4 separate regions of the Homo sapiens genome follow, and all the other regions are reported to be linked to region 1. Evidence: microRNA targets listed by miRTarBase, many of them from high-throughput screens and not tested one by one. Region 1 holds a microRNA gene; each other region holds the end of a gene's coding sequence.

Region 1 (4,150 bases):
TTTAAAATAAAAGAAATGGAAACATGTTTTCCCCTGGCTGTCAGAGCCATGATATCACATACCATATAACCTCTGGAAAACTCCACTGTATACTTGTGAAAGAATGAAAGTGAGGCCGGGCATGGTGGCTTATGCCTGTAACCCCAGCACTTTGGGAGGCTGAGGTGGGCGGATCATGAGGTCAGGAGTTCGAGACCAGCCTGGCTAACATGGCCTAACCCCATCTCTACTAAAAATACAAAAATTAGCTGGGCGTGGTGGCACGCGTCTGTAATCCCAGCTACTCAGGAGGCTGAGGTAGAGGAATTGCTTGAACCCAGGAGGCGGAGGTTGCAGTGAGCCGAGATTGTGCCAGTGCGCTCCAGCCTGGGCAACAGAGCGAGACTCTGTCTCAAAAAAAAGAAGGAATGAAAGTGAAAAAAATAATGTTTCTGTATTACTGTGAAAATAGTTTTAACTTTAGGGAATTTCTGGACCATCCTTTGGGAACTGCTTCTGTACATTATCAGTTTCTCACTTACAGTGGTTGGACTTATGATTTTTCATCTTTACAGTGATGCCAAAGCAATATGCATTTAGTAGAAATTATACTTCAAGTACCCTTACAACCATTCTGTTTTCACTTACAGTATAGTATTCAATAAATTATATGAGATATTCAACACTTTATTATAAAATAGGCTTTGTGTTACGTGAGTTTGCCCAACTTTACGCTAATGTAAGTGTTCTGAGCATGTTTAAGGTAGGCCCGGCTAAGCTGTGATGTTCAGTATTAAATTTAAATGCATTTTTAACTTACAGTATTTTCAACTTACGATGTGTTTATCAGGAAGTAACCCCATCATAAGCAGAGGAGCATCTGTATTGCGTAATTTGACTGGCACAGTTTATTAGGTTCTGTTCAGTGTTTTCCGTCAACAAGATGTTTATTGTGTGAGTAAACAAGTTAAGCCCTGTGACAAGCTGAATAAGAATAGTCTCTCCTCAGCAGCTTATAGTAAACAAGGGTAGTAATCCTTACATTAGTGGCTAGACTATCAAACGAAATATATAACATGTAAGAACACTAAAGACAGAATTACTGTGGCATAGAGATAGTTAGAATTGCTTCAGCCTAAGAGATGAATTAGGTAATGCAAGGAGGTGAATATGTTGGCTTGCAATATGAACAAGGCAGAGAGCTGGGAGAGTAAGATGTAAGTTGCTAAGGAGGGATGTGTACTTGAGTTTGGAAACCATAAAGGGAAATCATAGGTAATGCTAGAGTCACTGATCTTAGGGAGCCTTGAATAACGTGATGACTAAGGTAATCTTTATTTGGTGGACTATGGAATTAATTGACAGATTTTAAATAGAAGAATGACATGATCAGAGCTATAATTTATGTTTTAAGAGTGGTCCAAGGCTGCACGCGGTGGCTCATGCCTGTAATCTCAGCACTTTGGGAGGCCAAGCCGAGTGGATTGCTTGAGTTCAGGAGTTCAAGACCAGCCTGGCCAACATGGTGAAACCCCCTCTCTACTAAAAATACAAAAATTAGCCAGGCGTGGTGGTACGCACCTGTAATCCCAGCTGCTCGGGAGGCTGAGGCAGGAGAATCGCTCGAACCCGGGAAGCAGCGGTTACAGTGAGCTGAGATTGTGCCACTACACTCCAGCCTGGGCAACAGAGCAAGACTCCATCTCAAAAAAAAAGAGTGGTCCAAAAGTGGGAATAAACTAGCAATGGAGATGGCAACTTAGAAGATTAAGTGGGCGGGTACCATGGCTCACACCTGTAATCCCAGCACTTTTGGAGGCCAAGGCAGGCAGATCACCTAAGGTCAGGAGTTTGAGACCAGCCTGACCAACATGGAGAAAGCCCATCTCTACTAAAAATACAAAATTAGCTGGGCGTGGTGGTGCATGCCTGTAATCCCAGCTACTGGGGAGGCTGAGGCAGGAGAATCACTTGAACCAGGGAGGTGGAGGTTGTGGTGAGCCGAGATCGCACTGTTGCACTCCAGCCTGGGCAACAAGAATGAAACTTCATCTCAAAAAAAAAAAAAAAAAGATTAACTAGTAGTACAGGTAAGGAATAATGAGAGCTGGGGGTGAGGACTGGGGTGGTAAAGTCTTTTTAGTCTAATAATATTCAAGATCTACTTTGCTCAGAAGAGACAAGGGAAAACTGGGAAATTGATTTTGTACCACAGGTCACACATTTGCTTTCATCATACAAGGTTATGCTTTTTCTCTCAAATGAGTTGTACATATTATGTAGCATCTATTTACTTCTAAAAAATTGAGGAATGGAGGGCCGGATGCGGTGGCTCATGCCTGTAATCCCAGCACTTTGGGAGGCCGAGGCAGACAGATCACTTGAGGTCCAGAGTTTGAGACCAGCCTGGCCAACATGGCAAAACGCCATCTCTACTAAAAATACAAAAAATTAGCCGGGCATGGTGGCAGGCGCCTGTGATCCCAACTACTCAGGAGGCTGAGGCAGGACAGTTGCTTGAACCCGGGGGACGGAGGTTGCAGTGAGCCGAGATCACGCCATCGCACTCCATCCTGGGTGACAGAGTGAGACTCCATCTCAAAAAAAAAAAATTGAGGAATGAATGTGGGAAAGAGAAAGAACAAGTAAAAGGAATTTTCATTTTCCAGCCCCTAATTGTTCTGTCTTTCTCCCAGTGTCTCCTTTCCTCTTGGGCCGGGCACTTTGGGCTGCCAGTCGGTTCACTGTTGCTATGTCCCCTGAACTGATCCAGCAGTTCCTACAGGCAACAGTTAGTGGTCTTCACGAGACACAGCCCCCATCAGTTCGAATTTCTGCAGTGAGAGCCATCTGGGGGTGAGTATGCTACCCTAGCGTGATAATTAAGGGAAAGTTGCTCAGGTTAGATATAACAAATCACAGTTTTCCAGTGTATTATGTTGCTTGGAAATCCCTGCTAATGATATCCTTCAGGGTGAATGTTGGAAGGACAGGGAAAGAAACCATGCTAGAGACATGGCTTTTGTGAGTCCAGAAGATGTCCTGTTCCTTTCTGCTCCTCTTCCTCTTTAAATTCGCTCCAGTTCTGGAATCATCTAGGCAACTCCCTTTCTCTCAATGGTGAAGAACCTGAGGTTTGGAGAGAAAAATGTTTTGCACAGGGTTGCACAATTGATGAATGATAGAAGCAGGATTAGAGTCCACATCATTTTGTTGGTTGATTATATTAGAAACCAAATCTGGGATAATGTGACCTAGAAACACTGCTTATTTTTTCCCAGTTTTACCTATCTTTTTTAAGGCTAGTGTTACTAATGGATCAAAAGTCATTTATTTATATTCCTACGCAGACTAGAAGGACCATTGTTGTTTTAAGGAATATCTTAGGCTCAAACTTAAACATCTCAACTGAATCCTATAACTACCAACACAAAATTTATTTTCCATGTGCCTGCCCTGTCTTATCTTTTGAGGCAGAGGAGTATCTTTTGAGATGCCGTGTGTTATATGTCATTAGAAAGCATTCAAGAACTGCCTGTTTTAATTAAATGGTTAATGTTATGACCATAAACACCGTCCCATCTTTTTCTGCTTCAATCTAGGTGAAGCAGATCTTTGGCTCTAAAATAATTAGAAGTATCATCTTAAGAGGCAAACTAAGTATAGCTTTTTCAGAAAGCTCTAACACCATTTTAAATGTCTGAGAAGAGAGAGCCCTAAGCTGCTTAAGGCATGAATGTTATTTTAAGGGTTTTTCTGAGTTTGTACCTGTGGTCACTGCCTGTTTAGCTTCTGACCTTAGTGAAACTTGATTTCATTGGAGAATTATCCACTTTGTGTTGTGATTTTATGGAAATGTTTGCAGCTGCAAGCTGTGAGAGGAGTTTGGTATGAATGTGAAAGTACTTTGGGTAAAATAAGCCCATTACTTTCCAGAGTGTTTTAGGTAGACAGCAGTACCTATCAGGCATACTTACCAACATTGATTCTCTCTGGGGGAGATTAGAGTACAAAGAACTTTCATTCTCTGTTATATATATAAAATATTTTGTTTGTTTGTTTGTTTCAACAAGTTTATATTACTTTTATAATCAGAAGAACTGTGAAGAAAACTTTTATTTTTAATGTTCATATCTCTTGGACCACATGGGTAGTGGTTTAATAGTTTTCT
Region 2 (4,000 bases), not on the chromosome of region 1:
AAAGTCATGGGATGTGTACTAAAGTGGAAGAGCTGAGAGTCTCATCTGGTCACTGTCAAGACATTTTATTGTTATAATGTCCTATCTGGTTTTTGGAAACTCTTAGAAACCCCACTTTATAAACTTAAATTTCACAAGTTAGTCTCTTAGCTCTCCTGTTTACTTATAACATGTATTTTTCCATTTTAGATACAGACAGAAGCTGCTCAGTTGCTTACAAGTTTCAGTGAGAAGAATTGAGAACTTTTCAGAGAAGATTTATGAAATAGCTAATAAACATTGCCTTTTCTTTTAATTCTAAACTTAATATATGAACTATAACTGTTCTACGGCTTTTTAAATGTTGTGACCATTTAACCGTGTAAATATAAAATATTCTAGGCTTCTTCACAAATAATAGGGTAAAATAAATAATCGCCATAAGAGTGGTAGAAATAAATCTCCATGGCTCAGGCAAAGAGATTATTTTGCATCCTGGATACCAGCAATGCAAAATGGTATGAGATTTCTAAGGATTGATCACATTGGGATGGGAGATCAAGCAAAGAAATATTTGTAGAGGAGGGGAAATGGATCTATAGGGGATATACAGGGGGATGGATTTTCAAATTGGATTGATTCTAAGTTGAAATCTTGAAGAGAAGGTGTGGTGACAGTGGTTAGGATGTTGTGGGTTCCTGACATAAAGTAGTTAAATGATATATCTTGGAGCTAACCTGTGTAAGTAAAGAACTAAGTAAGGAGATGACTAAAAATGGAGTAGTTTCCTTTTTTATTTTTTTGAGACAGAGTCTCACTTTGTTTCCCAGGCTGGTGTGCAGTGGCACAATCTCGGCCCACTGCAGCCTCCGCCTCCCGGGTTCAAGTGATTCTCCTGCCTTAGCCTCCTGAGTGGCTGGGATTACAGGGTTGTACCACCACACTCGGCTAACTTTTGTATTTTTGGTAGAGATGGGGTTTTGCCATGTTGGCTAGGCTGGTCTCAAACTCCTGGCCTCAAGTGATCTGCCCGCCTTGGCCTCCCAAATTGCTGGGATTACAGGCGTGAGCCACCGCACCTGGCCAGTTTACTTTAAATGTGGTGTAGTCTCATGGTAAACTGAATTTGTCATCAGATGCAAAGTTCTATTCCCTAATGGAATGGAAGGAACACAAAACTTAAGAGTGAAATGGAATACTAAGATGTTTTTAAATAGGCAGGACTATGCTACTCACTTGAGGCTGGAGTGCCACCACTGCAAAATCTTTTTAAGTTTTGTAAAAAGGAGCATCTTGAATCCACTTAGATAAAGACAGACTGTGTGTGTAGGTGGATTTTTCCCAAAGGATTTGGGAATTGTAATGTTACAATGAACTGTATGGATATGTTTGTCATGTACATTTTCAAACAAAAAGGAAAACTGAAAGTAGTGATCTTTGTATACCCATCTCTTAGATTCAGTGATTTTGCTATATAGGTTGTGTATCCCTTATCTGAAATACTTGGGACTAGTAGAAGCATCTTGGATTTGGGATGTTTTTCCAAATTTTGGAATACCTGCATACACACAATAAGATATCTTGGAGATGGGACCCAAGTTTAAACACAAATTCACTTGTTTCATATATACCTTATGCACATAGCTTGAAGGTAACTTTATATAACATTATTTTTAATAATTTTGTGCATTGAGACCAAGTTTGCATACCTTGAACCATCAGAAAGCAAAGGTGTCATTATCTCAGCCACTCATGTGGGTAATTTGTGGTTGGTTGATGTCACCATCATTCCTGACTGAATGTATATGCTACCAATAAGCAGTTATTTTCTTATACTTATTCATGCATAAGTACTTAACAGTAAAAAATATGACATAACTCGCACAGGAACAAGGATGGCAAAAAAAAAAATATGACACACCACTGATACAGTGAAAAAATAATGTGGTCAGGGTAGCTAGGCAACAGTAGCATCACCAGAAACCTGTATCAGCTGTTAAACGGCAACAACAATGGCAGGCTTTCAGTTTCCCACTTAATGATGCTGTATTTTAAAAGGTTATTGTATACTGTAATTTTATTTTTGTAGGTGAAGAGAAACAGAAGCAGCTGAAGGGCCAGGAAGTGGGTCTTTCTAGGGATGTGGCATTCTGCTGGATGGCTTTTTAAAATGGGTTTTTTCCTTTAGGGAGACCGAATAAACTGTGTTGTGCACCTGCATTTTGACTGTGACCTGTTATGTGAGGTCAGATGTGGAATTTTCTACCTGTAGCATCATTTTGGTGCTCAGAAAGTTTTGAATTATGGAGCACGAATTTCAGGTTTCAGATTTTTGGAAATAGGGATGTTCAACCTGTATTTATACATGTGTGTTTGTGTGTGTATAGACACATACATTTCTAAACCTTTTGAAACTGATTGCAAGCATCATAATAGTTCACCCCAAATGTGTCAGCATGCATTTTCTCAGAATAAAGACATCTTCCTAAACAAACACAAAACCATTATCACAACTGGAGAAGTTAACAGTTCTCTAACATCATCTAATATCTACCCATATTCAAATTTTCTCAAATGTCCCCAAGATGTCTCATGCTTTCTAAAATCAGGATCCAAAGATTATACATTGCATTTGATTTGTTGCTAATCTTTCCATCCACAACAGTTCCCCATCTTTTTCTTCTTGCAACATTGACTTTTTGAATAGGCCAGTCCGGTTGTCATAGATTCTCTCGCATTCCAGATTGGTCTAATTGACCACACTTTGAGAACCGCTGTTCCAACTTATTTCCAGGACTCAAATTAGTTCTATTAGATCTTTGCCTGACTTTCACATTTATCACTTACTGATTTTTCTTTTAGCCTTTTTGTTTCATTTTCTTGGCTCTTTTCATTTATATCTTCCATATCCCTTATTTTACATTTGGTTGTATCTCTTCTTCCTTAGATACTTTATAATTGCCTTCACATCTGATATGTGTTTGTCTTTTTCTCCGAATTTTTTTCCTGATTTTAGCCAGTCATTCACATCTGCATTTTGTTTGTCCAGTTCTGAGTTTTTAAGTTGCTATTTCAGATTTTTTAAATATCTAATAATTTAATTCATATTAGCATATTGTGTTAAAGTTTACTCTCCTTTTTCTCATTTTCAATTTCTCTTTAGAGTGACTTTATTTTTTTTCCCTAGGGATGTAATTTTATGTTGAGTTACCAGCAATACTAGGTCATCAAATGGGAAGAAAGGGTCTGGGTTAGTTCAAGAATATTTTCTGCTTAGTTGTTTGTTTTTTGTGAGATCAGGTATCATTCAATAATAAAGCTTTTTATGGAGGTCTTACCTCCTGATTCCTTATTAGAACTTTAAAAAATATTTTTACTTTCAAAAAATCATAGATTCACAAATTGAAAAAAAAAAAAAAAAGATCCTGTGTACCTTTCTCTCAGCCTATCCCAGTGCTAACATCTCATATAACCTGTAGTACAATAGCAAAACCTGGAAACTGACATTGGTACAGACCACAGACCTTATATTTAAATTTTACCACTTTTAAATGCTCTTGTGTGTATAGTTGTATGCAATTCTATCACATGTAGATTTTTGGTAACTGCCACCATAATCAAGATACAGACCTGTTCCGTCATCACAAAGATCCCCAGTGCTGTCCCTTTACAGTCACACCCATCTACCTCCTCCTCTCCCCCACCCATCCCTAACTCTGACAGCACTAATCTGTTCTCCATAATTTTGTTATTTCAACAATGTTATACAAATGGAATCATACAGTGAGACCCTGTGATACTTTTTTTCACTCAACATAATTCCCTTGAGACCTAAGTTCTATCAATAGTTTGTTTCTTTTTACAGTTGACTAGTATTTCATTTTATGGGCATACCATATCAACCATATGCTGAGGGGCATTTAGGTTATTCCTGATTTTTAGCTATTACAAATAAAGCTGCTATGAGCATTATATGCAGGTTTTTATGTCTACATAGATTTTATCTCTCTGGGATACATGC
Region 3 (4,000 bases), not on the chromosome of region 1:
GAATCATGAGGAAGAAAATCAATTAAAGATGAAGCAGGGGGGTGGGGACTCCAGGCAAGGGACAGAGCCTGAGCTAAGGGGTAAAGACAGGATTGAGCAGGATGATGAACCTTTTTGGAAATAGACAATGAGTTCCCAGAAGTAGTGGGAGATAAGTTTCAGTGAGTAGAATGGTGATTTGTAGAAAGCCTTTAAAAATAGACAGTGAAATTATGACTCAGTGGAACAGTAGGGAGCCATTGCAGGTTCTTGAGGCAGAGAAGGACCGTAATAATAATAACAACAACAGCAGCAACGTTATAACAACTCTCTATAGAGTATGGATCCCAGGTTGCTGGGGGTCACTGCTTGGTGCAGTTTTTTCCCCAACTACACATTTGGGTCTAGAACGACCTCTATTCTGACCACCTGCTCCTATCTTCCCATTTATCCTCCAGGAGGCTGCCAGCTGGGGATCTCTGCCAAGGGAGAGCGCTTAAAACACTGGTACGAGTGTCTGAAAAATAAAGACAAGAAGATAGAGCGCTGGCACCAGCTACAGAATGAGAACCACGTGTCAAGTGATTAGGCTAGTGCCCAGGTCCCCATCTCCATGTCCCGGGTCCCCCCCAGCCTGCTCTAGCTGCCCACCGCACCCTGATCTCTCTTCTCTATGCCTACCTCCCCCCATACCCTGCTGATCTCCCTGAGCCTGCCTTTGAGCCCCCGTCACGTTGGGCACTGCTGCCAAAGACTCCCTCCTCCCTGATGCTGGGATGTGGGCTCTGAATACAGCCCCTCTCTCATCCCTGGGATGGAGCAATGGGGATGGGGTTGGGGAGACGTTTACAAAGAGGTTGATCATTTAATAACCTCTCAGTTTGGGTAAATTACAAAGGTTCTTCATCATTTAGGACTGTTTTTAGACCCTCCTAGCCTTGAACACACACATGTACACACACACACACACACACACACACACACCCTTTCATTCCCTGTGTTGTGTCTCTGTATATCCCCAGTTGTCAGCAGACCCGGACAATGCTGTGAGAGAAGCATTGGGGCACAAATAGAGCCTCCGGGCTCCCACTGCCCCCTGAGATGTACACCCTGATTGCCAGGAAAACAGACTGCTGTGTTCAGTAACACACCCTCCCTGCTCCAAGTGCACCAGGATGCAAATGCACAGAATTCACCAGGGGCTTGGACGCTCTCCTCTTTCCGAATGTCACCTGTGTGCTTCCTAGCAAAACAAAAACAAACGACAACAACAAAAAACCCTTCCTCTGTCACCTTTTCTCCTCCTCCCTCTTCTTTCCCTTCCATGATAGTAGATTCTCTCTTTCTCAGCCTCTCCCCTCTCCTTTCTCTCCCTGCCTTTCTTCCCTTTGCCTTTCTCTCTCTCTAAAGCAGTAACACCGCAAAAACAACAGCAAAAAAAGTGTATGTTAACCTAGCCTCACCCCCTTGCTCTCACCAGCCTGACCAGGAAACTGAGAAACTGGCCCAAACCTGAGATTCCACTTGGGCCCACGCTTCTTAACTGACCCACTCCTCCCGTTGGCAGAACCAGACATTCCCAGGGCTTGGGCCAATGGCTGGCACTGCCCTGAGTGCATGGCAGCATCCCTCAAGCTGTGTAGATGCCCCATAGAGGACTCTCTCATCCGTGGGCTCCCCGGGTGGGCACGGAGGCATTTAGAAGACCAGGGCCATGGGTCTGAGGAAGCCTCAGCCAAAGCCTCCAGCCTTTCTCCTTTCTCCGCTCTTAGGTAAATGAACAAGCTACCCTCCTCCCCAATGCCCTTGACTCTGTTTCATTGACTCTTTTGCATCCCATCTCTCACTCAGAACCCCCTCCAGTCTCTCTGTCTCTCTTTGTCTGTCTCTCTGTCTCCTGCACTCTCGTTACTAAGCTTCCTGGGAGAATCAAATAATATCATGGCTATGGAACAGTAGAGAGAGACAGGCCTGATGCCAAAGGCTTTGGGCTCATCATCAATCTTTCACTTTCTTCCTATAAAAAAAATTATTTTATAAAGGAGGAAAAGGCAATGTGGGCAAACATTACAAATTTGAGGTTGAAGTCAGGCAATCTTCAATGCCCTGTGAGAAAGGTTCGATTTTCCCAATTTTGATGAAGTCTTCCCTCATGAAAATCACTCCCAGTCATCCCAAACCCCTGACATTCTCTACAGAAGCATCAGACAGATACTCAAACTCTCACTTTCCCCAAATCACATCTCTTAACTTTTCAACGCCCTCCACCCTCAGCTCCCTGCACAATTCATGGGAGGACTCATTTCTTGCCTTGAATAACCATTTTCTAAACATCGAGCTCTTCACCTTCCCCAAGGTGGCCAACAGCTTCCTGGCTGCCATCTTTCCTTTTGACCTTATCTTTCCCCATTAGTCCCTGGTGGCACCTACTCTCAGCCCACCTCCCTCACCACAGTTTCCCCTTAGGAGACAGCATGCTGGCTGTGTCGCCCAAGCCTGATGCTGGTGTAGGCGCTGGAATCAGCATGCAGCAAGCTCACAGTGCCCCTAGTCTGGGTGCCCGCTGTCCCCGACAAATGTAACCACCTCCCTGCCTAGAATACACACACGTCCTCCGGTGCATGCACAACCACCCAGCATCTTTCTTTGTGATGATGTAGCCAAAAATAAAGTAGGAGCATCCAAGAAAACGAGTGGTCTGCAGTTTTCCTTTCTGGTTTCTGCGAAGTCCTCCTCCCCACCAGGACATATGCTATTCTGATAGTCAGTACTTAATGAGCATCTACTATGTTCCAGGCACTGGCGACAGATGTGTTCTCTGCCCACGAGGAGTTTGCTTTATGGTGGATTTTATCTTGGGCAGGTGGGCCTAAGGTAACTTGGCTGACTCCAAACCCTTCTAGAAGAATACTTTTTGCTGGTGCCTACCAAACAGGAGGGCAACATCCTCATCCTCCTCCTGCTGCTACAAGACCTGGGAAACGTCCCAGGTGGTTGCAGAATCAGAAATTGCCAAAGCTAAAAGAGAACATACAATTGAGCCACAACCTAGTTCAATCAACTCACTTTTTAGACAGATGAAGAAACCAAGGTCCAGAGAAGAAAATGCCATGTCCAGTGTTAAACAAAGGCAATACCAGGAAAGGAGTTCGATCGTTGGACTCCCAGAATCCAGTGTTCTTCACACACTGATCGATGAGCATGGACCATCAAATGCCTCCCTTGCATTGTAGCACCTTCCAACCTACAATGATTCTCTCATTGGAGATTCTCGATAGTCCTGAAGGTGAACTGAGTCAGCAACTGACTCTCCAGAAAAAAAAAATCTTTTTTTTTTTTTTTTTTATTATGGAGTCTCCCTCTGTCCCTCAGGCTGGAGTACAGTGGCACAATCTCTGCTCACTGCAACCTCCACCTCCCGGGTTCAAGTGATTCTCCTGCCTCAGCCTCCCGAGTAGCTGGGACTACAGGTGCTTGCCGCCACACCCGGCTAATTTTTATATTTTTAGTAGAGGCAGGGTTTCGCCATGTTGGTCAGGCTGGTCTCAAACTCCTGACCTCAGGTGATCCACTTGCCTTGGCTACTCAAAGTTTTGGGATTACAGGTGTGAGCCACTACACCCGGCCTCTAGAATTCTTAATCACACTATAATCCATCCCCAAAGTGCTTAAGCAATTTATCAGTAATGGTTACTTCAAGAAGGAGCCATCAATTCTGTCCCACAGATAATTCTCTTTTCTTTGAGACCATTTCCTGTTTGTGCCCTCAAAAGCAAAAGCTGGCATGTTAGTCTCACTTGGGAGATTTCTTTCCCCACAGATTCTGCTAAACCCTGAGGATAAGGTGTATAGTTGAAAATATTTTCTGGCCGGGCACAGCAGCTCATGCTTATAATCCCAGCACTTTGGGAGGCCGAGGTGGGTGAATCACCTGAGGTCAAGAGTTCGAGACCAGTCTGGCCAACAGGGTGAAACCCTGTCTCTACTAAAAATACAAAAATTAGCCAGGTGTGGTGGCGTG
Region 4 (4,000 bases), not on the chromosome of region 1:
AAAAGGCTGTAATTTATGTCAGCAGGGTGGAGGAAAGAGGAAAAGCAATTTACCCAAGCTGAGCAGACCTGCATCTTATCCCCCATTTCACCCTACCCGTTCCCTGCACAAAAATAAATAAATAAATAAATAAATAAATATAAAACAGAAGAGAAATGGCGCCAGGACATTCTTAACTTTTCTTGGATTATGAATCTATGCCACAATTACTATAGGCTTTAATTGCTCTTGACTGCAAGGCTATGTTCCTTTTGCCTTAGAACAGATAAGGAGGCTGTGGCACGTAAACATTCGGTGAATCTTAACATTAATATGCCAGTAGCATAGAAATATGCTATTTTTGAAAGCCCTTTGAATTGTGCACATGATTTTCCCTCTCCAGTAATAAATTGAGGGAAAAAATATGGATTGCTTAGGTAATGTAGTGATTATACAGCTTGTTATATAGATCAGGTTTACAGATCATCTCTCCATTCTTGACCTCTTAAGGTACAATTTAAAGCTGCGATTTAAGTAGAAATTATGAAAAGATGGAAGCACAGATAGATCTGTAAGCTGCCCACACTCTCTTTTCCTAATTTTTGAAGGCAAATAATGAACATGGTAACCCGGACGTGCCATACAGGTTAAAACCATGCCAGAGGGGCACATGCAGTCGAGACAAGCACAAAAACAGATGATCAGTTTAACCGATTTTGAAAGGCGGGCCCCTGAAAATTCAGAAATGACTATGTGTGGACTTTTTAAAGCCAACTCTGAAATGATTCCAAGGATCCTATAGAATAGTGAGTGCAATTAAAGACATTCAGTGTTATGTTCATTTTGACTCTTTATTCCTCGGAATGAAGACTGTGAGCTAAAATGTCTGTAACAATGTAGGATGTTTGTAAAAATATTGTTTCTCATGTGAGCTTCCAAGAGGGTCAGAGTGTCTGATTATAAAATCTCTGAAACTAAACTGAAAATGCCAGCATCTATACATATGTACTACATATTACATACATCTTTAGATGTATATTTATGTATTTTATGTTTTATATATTAAATACGCATATGCAAGATAACACATTTTAGTCGACACCATTGAAAACAGTTTTAACCAAGAATATTAGAACCAATGAAGCAGAGAAATCAAAAGGGTGGATGGAACTGCCAAAGGATGAAATTCTTGTGCTATACTCTCATGCTCTCATCTAGAGAATGTGAATATGAGAAAACATGGGTCATTCGTTTTAACATGTTAAGACCGTGCAGTCTGTCCTTCATGTCCATGGCAATAGAGGGTGAAGAACAGCTGGAGAACAAACAAGACCCCAATCCCCTCAGTTGGGTATGATCTAATGGTTCTCACCTAATCAAGAACAATAGAACTAGAGATAAAAAGGAGCTGCAAGATTTTAAAAGTTAACCAGCATTAGTAAAAGATAACTGTCATGCACATTTAAAGATAAGGTTTACATAACCTCATAACCTCCGAACTGTAACTAAGCTCATAGTCATCAAAAGTTAATTCCTAGGAAGAATTTGATTATAACAGTCTGTTCCATTATAAACACACTGTTTTTTAGCCAATTCCAAGGAGATTAGAGGTAGGTTTCACCAATCATGCATGGCAGGATCAGAGGGGATGCAAAGTCCTGGAAACTGACCTAAAATACTGCCAGTAAAATAGTGGGTAGTTGTGGGTGCCCTGCTCTTATGAACATCTGCTGAACCCTTCCTTGGTCTGATTCTAACCCAGGGTACAGAAGCCCTGACACTCTGGTAAGTGTTCAATCTGAGCAGCCTAATTTGACTTCATTCTGTTTGGGCGTCAGTCCAACTGGCAGATGTTCTTATAGAAGCTGATCTCCGACACTTTCCCTTTCTAATTTTCTGGCACCGTTGCCTCTGTTGCATGGGCTATTATCTCTGAAACTTTATCTCGGGTTATCCAGGTTTTGCTTGTTTTGTAGGCTTTAGTTTTCCCTTAAATCTTTCTGCCCCAAAGAAGTTCATTTGAAAAATACTAAATCACTGGTAACACCTTTAGTGCAAATATGACTTATCAAATAACTTGCCTGCAATTTTCCAGCCATTCATTACCTTTCCCCCACCCCCTCTAAAATATATAACTTCAGAAACAAAAATGCAAACACAAGGTCATCATTGTAAGCGCTATACAAATGCACCATTTTCTCTTACAGGTTGGACTTTATAGAATGAAATGCCAGAGATTTGATATTTATTATCTGAAATAGGTTTAACATTTGGAGAAATGTGTTCAAACACACAACCTTGGAAAGAAAAGCAAGCTGATAGGTCAGAGAACAGAGGGTGGGCAGAAAACACGATGTGCATAATTTTGCTGCGTGTTGGGCAAAAAGTTAGAAAACTGGGTTCTTTGGAGAATAAAGAGCTCTCAGATGAGGTAAAGGTAAAACACAAATAAATTTCCAACCCTTGATGAGGGCCACGAGATATCAATTTTAAATATATATGACCACAATATCAATAATGAAGAAATCTTACGTTTTATTGAATACTTTGGCCAGATCAGCCCCTTTGAAGGGATCACTAATTTAGGAAAGAAGAACAACAAACCATCATTCACTTTCCTGCAGGTTCATCGTTTTCCTAATTATTTCTATGGATCCTGCTTTATTCTTTCTGTAAATTAAGGGGCAGGAGGAGAGTTTCTATAATAGATCAGCAATGTCTGGTTCTTATCCAAATATTCCACCTAATAAGGATGTAAATTCTCATGGATTGGACAATCACTCTGCAACATTCCTGAGAATTGAATAATATAATAATCTTGAAAGTCAGCAGAGTGGATTATCCACTTTTTTTTTCTGGACTTGAACTTGTGAACTCAACAGTAGCACTGCAAAAAAGCAAACGTGCTAAGCACTTTGCCAGAGTAACCTTCCATGTAGACTTTTCATCTTAAATACACACAACTGAAAACAACTACAATTTTTGGAAAATTATGTACAAACCCGATACTTCTTTTGATTACATATAAATACAAATTAGCTATTTTTTTCCTAAAAAGTGGTTATAATAGTAAATAAATACAAAATAAATCTGACCATTATACTTCATGTGCTGGGGTTGAACCCATATAAAATGTACAACTAAATACATTTTAAATCTTTAAGGAATAATTCTCTGATTAAAATATTTGTTTTCCCAACTTCTTTTCGTAGATATAAATATATTTTCAAAATAGCTGTTTTTTTTTCCATTCCATTCCATAAATAAAGTCTTCATTGGGAAATATTAAAGTGTCAACTGGGGTGGGGTTTTTTTGTTTGTTTGTTTTTTTCTTTTTTCTAAAATATATATATATATATATATTTATGTATTTAATTTTGCTGTACTAGCGACACCCACAACCCTCCACAACCATGTCCTGATAGTTCTTTAATACAACCTTTTCATTCTCGTCAAGGTACAGCATCGAGATAGCACTGAGTTCTGTCGGGACACAGCATGCCTTAGGAATCTTAGAGTTAACAGAGTTGACCAACGTCTGAACAATGGCATGATTAGTGGAGTTCAGATGATCAGCCAGAGGAAAAGGGCATTCTCCGTGGCAGTAAAAGGCGTGATACCCCGGGGGAGCCACAATCCAGTCATTCCACCCCACGTCACTGAAGTCCACGTACAAAGGGTGTCTCTTACAGCTGGACTTAAGGCGTTTCCGCTGTTTGTGTTTGGCTTGACGTTTTTCTCTTTTGTGGAGAGGATGCCCTTTTCCATCATGGCCAAAAGTTACTAGCAATGGCCTTATCTGTGACCAGCTGTGTTCATCTTGGTGCAAAGACCTGCTTATCCTAACATGTCTCTTGGAGACACCTTGTTTCTCCTCCAAGTGGGCCACTTCCACCACGAATCCATGGTTGGCGTGTCCCTGTGCAGTCCACCGCATCACAGCGGGGGTGACATCAAAACTTTCCCACCTGCTTGCATTCTGATTCACCAACCTGGTGTCCAAAAGTCTGGTCACGGGGAA

The links. Region 1 holds the annotated microRNA hsa-miR-6739-5p (UGGGAAAGAGAAAGAACAAGUA, at 2,606-2,627, shown strand). A microRNA usually pairs through its seed, bases 2 to 8, with sites in the 3' UTR of a target mRNA and lowers its output. Matches are read on the target gene's strand: a 7mer-m8 pairs with bases 2 to 8, a 7mer-A1 pairs with bases 2 to 7 and ends in A, and an 8mer does both.
Region 2: miRTarBase lists RMDN1 as a target of hsa-miR-6739-5p. Seed matches in the 3' UTR shown: 7mer-A1 at 802-808, 7mer-A1 at 1,317-1,323 and 7mer-A1 at 2,007-2,013.
Region 3: the mRNA of RPH3A is a reported target of hsa-miR-6739-5p. Seed matches in the 3' UTR shown: 7mer-m8 at 1,293-1,299, 7mer-A1 at 2,104-2,110, 7mer-m8 at 2,206-2,212 and 7mer-m8 at 2,380-2,386.
Region 4: miRTarBase lists BMP2 as a target of hsa-miR-6739-5p. Seed matches in the 3' UTR shown: 7mer-A1 at 3,256-3,262.

Annotation. Positions count from the first base shown.
Region 1 is chr1:201,860,773-201,864,922 of GRCh38, forward strand. MIR6739 (microRNA 6739) reads left to right here and starts at 2,601; the gene lies at 2,601-2,675. IPO9 (importin 9) reads left to right here. Exons shown (of 24, transcript NM_018085.5): 14 at 2,676-2,835.
Region 2 is chr8:86,470,548-86,474,547 of GRCh38, reverse strand. It overlaps RMDN1 (regulator of microtubule dynamics 1), which reads left to right. Exons shown (of 10, transcript NM_016033.3): 10 at 190-2,199. The coding sequence ends at 240. Among named protein-coding and RNA genes, the nearest start is that of RMDN1, 36 kb to the left of the region's middle.
Region 3 is chr12:112,896,213-112,900,212 of GRCh38, forward strand. RPH3A (rabphilin 3A) reads left to right here. Exons shown (of 22, transcript NM_001143854.2): 22 at 438-2,669. The coding sequence ends at 568. Among named protein-coding and RNA genes, the nearest start is that of OAS1, 8.7 kb to the right of the region's middle.
Region 4 is chr20:6,778,454-6,782,453 of GRCh38, reverse strand. BMP2 (bone morphogenetic protein 2) reads right to left here. Exons shown (of 3, transcript NM_001200.4): 3 at 2,208-4,000. The coding sequence ends at 3,365. Among named protein-coding and RNA genes, the nearest start is that of BMP2, 13 kb to the right of the region's middle.